Linked DNA regions of Homo sapiens. The protein of the gene in region 1 interacts with the protein of each later gene in a biochemical or structural test. Each region holds a gene or a part of one and is shown in the gene's direction. Other genes may lie near its edges.

Evidence for each region.
Region 2: of the proteins of MXRA7 (region 1) and FAM20C, one has a biochemical effect on the other in vitro, tested with the Homo sapiens proteins (one large-scale study listed by IntAct).

Annotation. Positions count from the first base shown.
Region 1 is NC_000017.11:76,679,860-76,683,511, reverse strand, and holds part of MXRA7 (matrix-remodeling-associated protein 7), read left to right. Parts: intron 1-2,632; coding exon 2,633-2,645; 3' UTR 2,646-3,652.
Region 2 is NC_000007.14:254,954-258,605, forward strand, and holds part of FAM20C (extracellular serine/threonine protein kinase FAM20C precursor), read left to right. Parts: intron 1-895; coding exon 896-1,076; intron 1,077-1,700; coding exon 1,701-1,810; intron 1,811-2,051; coding exon 2,052-2,133; intron 2,134-3,652. UniProt on the Homo sapiens protein: Golgi serine/threonine protein kinase that phosphorylates secretory pathway proteins within Ser-x-Glu/pSer motifs and plays a key role in biomineralization of bones and teeth.

The DNA of each region.
Region 1 (3,652 bases):
CCCTGCAGCCTTGGGTCTCACCCTGAGAAGATGAGGCAGCTTCTGCACAGTGCACAGCAGATACTCTGAGAACGGTCCGTGCTCCCAAGCTGTGAGACAGGCAGGTTCTTAGGATCAGGGCAAGGGTTAGCAGACAACGGCCGGGCCACATCTGATCCCCCACCTGCCTGTGCCAATCCAGCGTGGCAGTAGTAGCAACACTCACCCATTTTCCTGTGGTCTGTGCCTCTTTGTGCCGCAGTGGCCGAGGTGAGTCACTGCAGCAGAGACCACACAGCCCCCCAAATCTAAGTAGTATCTGGCTGTTTGCAGAAAAAGGTTGCAGTCCCTGGACAGAGGCTAGAGGGGGCTGGACACAACTGCCAGCCCTTGAAGGTCCCTGGGGACAGAGGCTGCTCAGGCAGATGGATCTGGAGGGCCTCTTAGAACAAGAAAGACCAGGCCTCCGGCTGGGGGTGAAACTGCCACTGCCACCCACGTCCAGAGCTGGGACCTTGGCAGTGGGGAGGGAAAATCCCTTCCCCTTATTTTCAGAGAGTAGACCCTCTGCTGCCCATCCTTCCCCCACTGGATCTTTGGAGGTCTCTAGACCACCAACCCACACTTGGCTGTTCTGTGGGACCGAGACTGTGCCCGAGGTGCTGCTCCTGGGACGAGGGAAGACTCCTCGACTCCTCTGCATGCTGCAGTTACCACTTTGTGCCCTGAATTGAGAAGGAGGGGCCGGAGGACTTCTTGGGGCAGGACTGGAGTTCACGTTCATTCCCATCACTGCCCAGCCCGCATGCTCCCTGTGGCTCCTAGGCATGCCGGTGGCATCTGCTTGCTCCCCCACACCTCTGCCCCCCTGCATGTGGTTGCCCCTCGCAGCACTGCGTGGGGTCTCCGCGGCTCCACATCACGCTGTCCTCACACGGTGATGCTTGGGGTTGCAGAGGCTGGTCAGTTTGGCTTTGGCTCTTCATCTTCAGCACGATGGTTCTCATGGGGGTGGGGAGCGCTGGCAGCTGTGAGACAGTTCTGGTCCCAGCCAAGTCCAGGGAACCGCCCTAGAATCATCAGTATGAAAAATAACATGCCTGTTGTTATCAAACCACTAAAACCACAGGCCAGCTAGCAGGGTGCTCTCTCTCCGCCTGTCAGGTTCCACCCTCCCGGCCTCCATGCCTCTGATGCCTTTCCCAGCTCTCAGGGTCCAGTCGAGTTGCAGCTACAAGCTGCACGTCCCCTAACTTTAAATTTACTAGCTCAGCCAACAGATCTGCATCTAGAACCTGAAGCTTTAGTGGTTGCCAGTTCCAGCACTCCCCAGGAGCTTCAGTTCACAGGCTCTCATGACAATTAGGAAGTGGGACTGGAAGCAGAAGGCCCCCAATTAGTTCCCCGACATGCTGAAGTGGTCAGTCTCATCCTTGAACTACTCACAGATCAAATTCCTTCCGCCTGGGGCCAGAAAGCGGTCAGGTCTGTAAATCCAGAGGCAGCTGCTGCTTAAGATCCTGCTTGCCACTGTCTGCCCGCCTCCTCAGCTCTCCCCTCGGGCCGGAGTTTCACACACTTCATGCCTCTGGTGGCGTCCCTGGGTTCCGCTGAAGCTGCTGTGGGAAGTGCCACCTCCAGTTTCACAGTGTGGCTAGGACAGTGGGCTTGCAGGCTGGTGACAGCTCCCCTGAGCAAGAGGCCTCCTCCTCCTCCCCCAGAGCTAGGGAAGCTGGCAGGGCTTGGCTGGCTTCACAGCTTGGCAGGAGAAAGAACAGGCGCGGCTGTCAGCTCCTCTCCATCACTTCTTCCCACCTTGTGGTCTCAGAGGGAAAATGAACCCAGGCTATAGACTGGGCTGGCTCTGATAGATCAGGACCCACCCCTCCATTTGAGGTCTGCAGGGCTGTCTTGACTCCTCTGGAAATGGACATGACTCTAGAGGAAGGTGCTAGTGTGGTAAAACAGGGAAGGGGAGGAGGAGGCCAAGGAACCCCAGCTGTGGGGTAGTTCTGGTTCTTCCATCTGATGTATGCAAGAAACTACAGACAATAGACCTGCCAGTGTGAATTTCCAGCTCAGGCTGGAAATGCGTGCTGACTGTGACCACCAGGAGAGGGCGTCAGAGGGACAAGATCAGACCTGCTGGGTTCTCAGTGGTCCCAGGGCTGGCAGTGTGTCTTGGTTCATAAAAGACGGGCATGCAGTTGGCTCCATCTGGAAGCGTGCATCCTAGGGTGCCAGTATCCCCCGAGGGGACAAAACTCAGCCAGCGGGAATGGGAAATTATCTAGGGTGATAGGAATATTGTCAGCACAACCACACAACCCAAGATCAGAAAGGCCCTTGGCAACTCAAATGCCCAAGTTCCTTCCTTAAGTACCCTGCAGAGGCTGAACAGGGTCTGTGGGCTGCCAGGTTCTGTGCGGGATCAAGGGGAGCTCTGCAAGCTCTGGCCGGCTTGGCGGCACAGACTGTCTTGCTGCAAGCGATGAGAAGCAAATCAGCAGTGGTTTGAGAAACCAGAGTCTAGCGCAGCTTCTGCAATTCCAAACATTCTCCTTCCTCGTCCCCATTTCCCCCTTTCCTTGCCCATGGTGCAGGATGGAATGAGTAAAATAAATTATCTTTTTCTCCCCATTTCTCTTTACAGAACTGAAGAATAACGAAGTTATCCTTAGCGTCCTCCTAAAGGCTTTTCCTTTTGGCATCTTAAAAGCTTGAGAGATAAAACGGAAACCCCAGAGAGGAGTCTGGGCAGGCTCCCAGGGTGCATGCTGCCTCCATAAATCTGCTGAGCTCTAGACCCTCAATCAGGACTTGTCCCTTGGCTAGCAGGATCCTGGGAACACCTTTGGCCCTGCCCTGTGTAGAGATGTTCATGTCTGTTCCTGTGGGTCACTTTGTTAAGCTGAAGAGTTTTAAGAGGTAGAGCTCAGACCCTGGACTGGGATTTTTCTTACCACTCAAACTTGCTATCCACACACCCTGCACACCTTAGATAAAAAGAACATTTTAAAAGCAGAGTTCACTTTCACTCCAGTCTCCCCTCTTTTGCCCTCACTGAAGCCAAACCACAGAAGACTTTGAGGAATGAGAGACAAATGAGGTAGAGCTCACCTGTGCTCACCAGCTCCGTCAGGGTGGTCAGCCGACCCCTTTCCCTGGGAACCCCACTTCTCTCTGTGGCTGGCTTGGTTGTCGGGGGTGAGATGCCATATTGATTACAGGGCAGCAAAGAACCAGTACCAGGAATTTACTTGACCATTCCCCTTATTTTTCATCTAGAGGAATCTCGGATTCAGCCCTTTCATTGCTAAGACACCTTTTCACTGAGGTTCTTACCAGCTCAGCCAAATCTCCACTCTGCTATAGCAGAAGCAATAATGTTTGCTTTAAAAAGATTTCTTGACCTATGCCTTTTCTTAGAAAGTTTGATAGATTAGTTAGAACTTCAGATCATCAGATCAGTCTCAAATGGGTTTCTTGGAATTTTATATTTGACAATATTTATACTATACCAAACTCATTTGCAGTTCTTAGGTTTGTTGGTTAAAACATTTTTTTAAAGCAGTAAGTTTATAGAAAATGTTTTCATTTAATGGAAGGCTGGGGAATGTCCAGCATCAACCCCTATGGCATGCATTCCCAGGGGCCTTCTCATCTGGGCCTG
Region 2 (3,652 bases), on another chromosome or scaffold:
ACGGATGGACCATGTTCACCTGGCGTGTCCACTCCTCTCTTGATGGACATTTGGGTGGATTCTCTCTTTTTCGGCTGTGGTGAGCGGTGCTGCTGTGAGCATTCGTGTCTGAGTTTTTGTATAGAAATGTTTTCTCTTCTCTTAGGGGTTTACATGGGAGGGGAGTTCCTGGGTCACGTGGAAACACTGTGTTTAATCAGTTGGGGGCTGCAGACCGTTTCCGCCGTGGCTGTGCCGTGTGCACCCCCCGCCAGCAGCGCACAGAGGTGGCGGTTCCCCCGTCCCAGCCGGCAGCTGCTCTTTTGATGGAAGCCATCCCAGCAGACAGGAGATGGTGCCTCACCGTGGCTTTGATTTGCATCTCCCCGGTGACTCACGATGGCGCCCGTCTCTTCTCATGCTTGTCGGCCATCAGGGTCGTCTTTGGAGAATCAGCTGTTCAAGCCCTCTGCCCATTTATTAGTTTTTTTTGTCTTTTTGTGATTGAGTGATGAGAGTTCTTCATACACTCTAAATGCTAGATCCTCAGATGTGCGGTTTGCAAACGTTTTCTACCATTCTGTGGATTGTATCTTCACTTTCTTGACAATATGAATGCATTTTTTAAAAGACTAAATGTTGGCCCTAGGGTTTCCATAGACCAGCCCCTGATTTTCGAGGGTTCAGGCCGGGCTCTGCCTCTGGGGAGCTGTGTGGCCTCGGGACGTCAGCTCTGTGGGTTCATTTTTCTGTACCGTGGGGTGGAGGTGTTTGCTGGGATTGATGGGGAACTGTGGGTGAGTCCTGCCCATGAGAAGCACCAGGCAGAGCCCGGCCCGGCCTTGGGGGCCGTGAGACCACAGGTGAGGACGCAGCCCTGTGCGGCCCTGGTAACCCGCAGCCTGTCCCTCCCCAGCCAACAACATCTGCTTCTACGGCGAGTGTTCCTACTACTGCTCCACGGAGCACGCCCTGTGCGGGAAGCCAGACCAGATCGAGGGCTCGCTGGCGGCCTTCCTGCCCGACCTGTCCCTGGCCAAGAGGAAGACCTGGCGGAACCCTTGGCGGCGTTCCTACCACAAGCGCAAGAAGGCCGAGTGAGTGCGGGGCCGGGGGGCTGGCGTCCGGCCACCCTACGGCAGAGGGAGCTGGGCCTGGGCGGGCATGGGAGGGTCGGCGCCCACGGGGGTGGCAGAGATGGGTGCAGAGCCTGCTGTGCGATGCTGGCCTGTGTGAGATGACCGCTTCCTGATGAGACGGTGGCAGAGGGCGTCCTTACTCCAGTATTTCCATGTGCTTCCCTGACCCGGGCCGGCCTGCCCACCAGGTCCCTCGAATCGGGGCCTCTCAGCGTTTGAGCTCTGCTCTCGCCCCGTCCCTCTCCTCACTCCTGCGGGAGAAACGGCCCCTGTTCTTTCCGCCCCACGTTGTCCTCGTGAGTGTGTAGTCCAGGTCCTGTTTCCCCACAGAGACTCTGCAAAAAACACGGGGCCCAGAGGTGAAGGCAGCTCCAGGTGGGGTCACCCCGAGGCAGGGCAGAGCGGCTCCGTCCCCTCCCACACCCGTGCTCCCGCTAATGCAGCCTCAGCGCCGCAGCCCGGGCGGGTCCATCTGCAGACGCCAAGGTCCCTGCCGCAGTGTTTCTCTTCTGCTCCTCATGGCACGCGCCGGGCTCCCCAGAATCTGGCCTGGGCCCCCCGTCTCACGCTGGCTCCCCGCAGGTGGGAGGTGGACCCTGACTACTGCGAGGAGGTGAAGCAGACACCGCCCTACGACAGCAGCCACCGCATCCTGGACGTCATGGACATGACGATCTTCGACTTCCTCATGGGTACGTCCCGCAGGGGCACGGGGTCCCCGTGTCACTCGCCTTGCGTGGAGCGGATGCACGCAGGGCTCTGCAGGGCACACTCCGTGGCACGGCCCGGCTGCGGTCCTGTGGCCTGTGAAGGGGCCAGATTGCTTAGAGGTCACGCTGGCAGGAGGAGACGCCGCTCTGCAGAGCACAGAGGCCTCTGAGCTACGTGGCCCGGCTCCCCACGAGCTGTGACACTTTCTGCCTCTCTCCGCAGGAAACATGGACCGTCACCACTACGAGACTTTTGAGAAGTTTGGGAATGAAACGTTCATCATCCACTTAGACAATGGAAGAGGGTGAGCCTGTCCTCGCCCCTGCACACCCAGGGAAGGGCCGGCCACCTCCCAGCTACCTGCAGCCCACCTGAGACCCTGGGGACGGGGGGAGCAGACCCTCCAGTGGAGGGATGGGAATGTCGCAAAGGCCCATCTCAGAGCCAGATGCAGAGGGCGGCCCCAGGCCCCAACCAGGAGGGAGGGCCGCCCCGGGAGTGGGACCTCCGAGGCACAGGAATGCTGCAGACCAAGTCCCGGCAGAGCTGGTGTTACCTGGGAAACGGAGGCCAGGAGAGGCTGCTGGTAGGAAGAGCAGGACCGTGCAGAATAGATGGGCCTCTGCCTGCACGCGGTACCTGGAGCCAGCCAGCGGGGGATAGGCGGCCTCTGCGGCCGCTGCTGGCCTGCCACGGGGGGTCTTGGGCGGCGCTGTGAGACCCTGGTTACCAGGGAGGGTGACCCCTAATAAGCAAAGCATGGAGGCGAGTAACTCGGGCAGGAGGACGTCCATTCCCAGGCTCGGAGGCCTCAGAGAGATGGACTTTGGGCACTTCAATAGCTAAACTGTGGGCTGACGCTCCCTGGAGCCATCTCAACTCGGCTGCCCAGGACCCTTCCCCAGGCCAGAGGCCAGGACCCCACATACAGGGCTGGGGACAGGCGGGGTGGACCCACTGCCTGGGGTGCTGGAGATGGGCAGGGTGGACCCACTGCCCGGGGTGCTGGAGATGGGCTGGGTGGACCCACTGCCCGGGGTGCTGGAGATGGGCAGGGTGGACCCACTGCCTGGGGTGCTGGAGATGGGGCTGGGTGGACCCACTGCCCAGGATGCTGGAGATGGGCTGGGTGGACACACTGCCTGGGGTGCTGGAGATGCCCGGGGTGGACCCACTGCCTGAGGTGCTGGAGATAGGCAGTGTGGACCCACTGCCTGGGGTGCTGGAGATGGGGCTGGGTGGACCCACTGCCCGGGTGCTGGAGATAGGCAGTGTGGACCCACTGCCTGGGGTGCTGGAGATGGGGCTGGGTGGACCCACTGCCCGGGGTGTTGGAGATAGGCGGGGTGGACCCACTGACTGGGGTGCTGGAGATAGGCAGGGTGGACCCACTGCCTGAGGTGCTGGAGATAGGCAGGGTGGACCCACTGACTGGGGTGCTGGAGATGGGTGGGGTGGACCCACTGCCTGAGGTGCTGGAGATAGGCAGGGTGGACCCACTGCCTGGGGTGCTGGAGATGGGTGGGATGGACCCACTGCCCGGGGTGCTGGAGATGGGCAGGGTGGACCCACTGCCTGAGGTGCTGGAGATGGGCAGGGTGGACCCACTGCCCGGGATGCTGGAGATGGGTGGGGTGGACCCACTGCCTGGGGTGCTGGAGATGGGTGGGATGGACCCACTGCCTGGGGTGCTGGAGATGGGTGGGATGGACCCACTGCCCGGGGTGCTGGAGATGGGCTGGGTGGACCCACTGCCTGGGGTGTCGGGTACAGGCAGGTGGACCCATGGCCCAGCTCCCAGCCCAGCAGCCTGTTAGGAACCT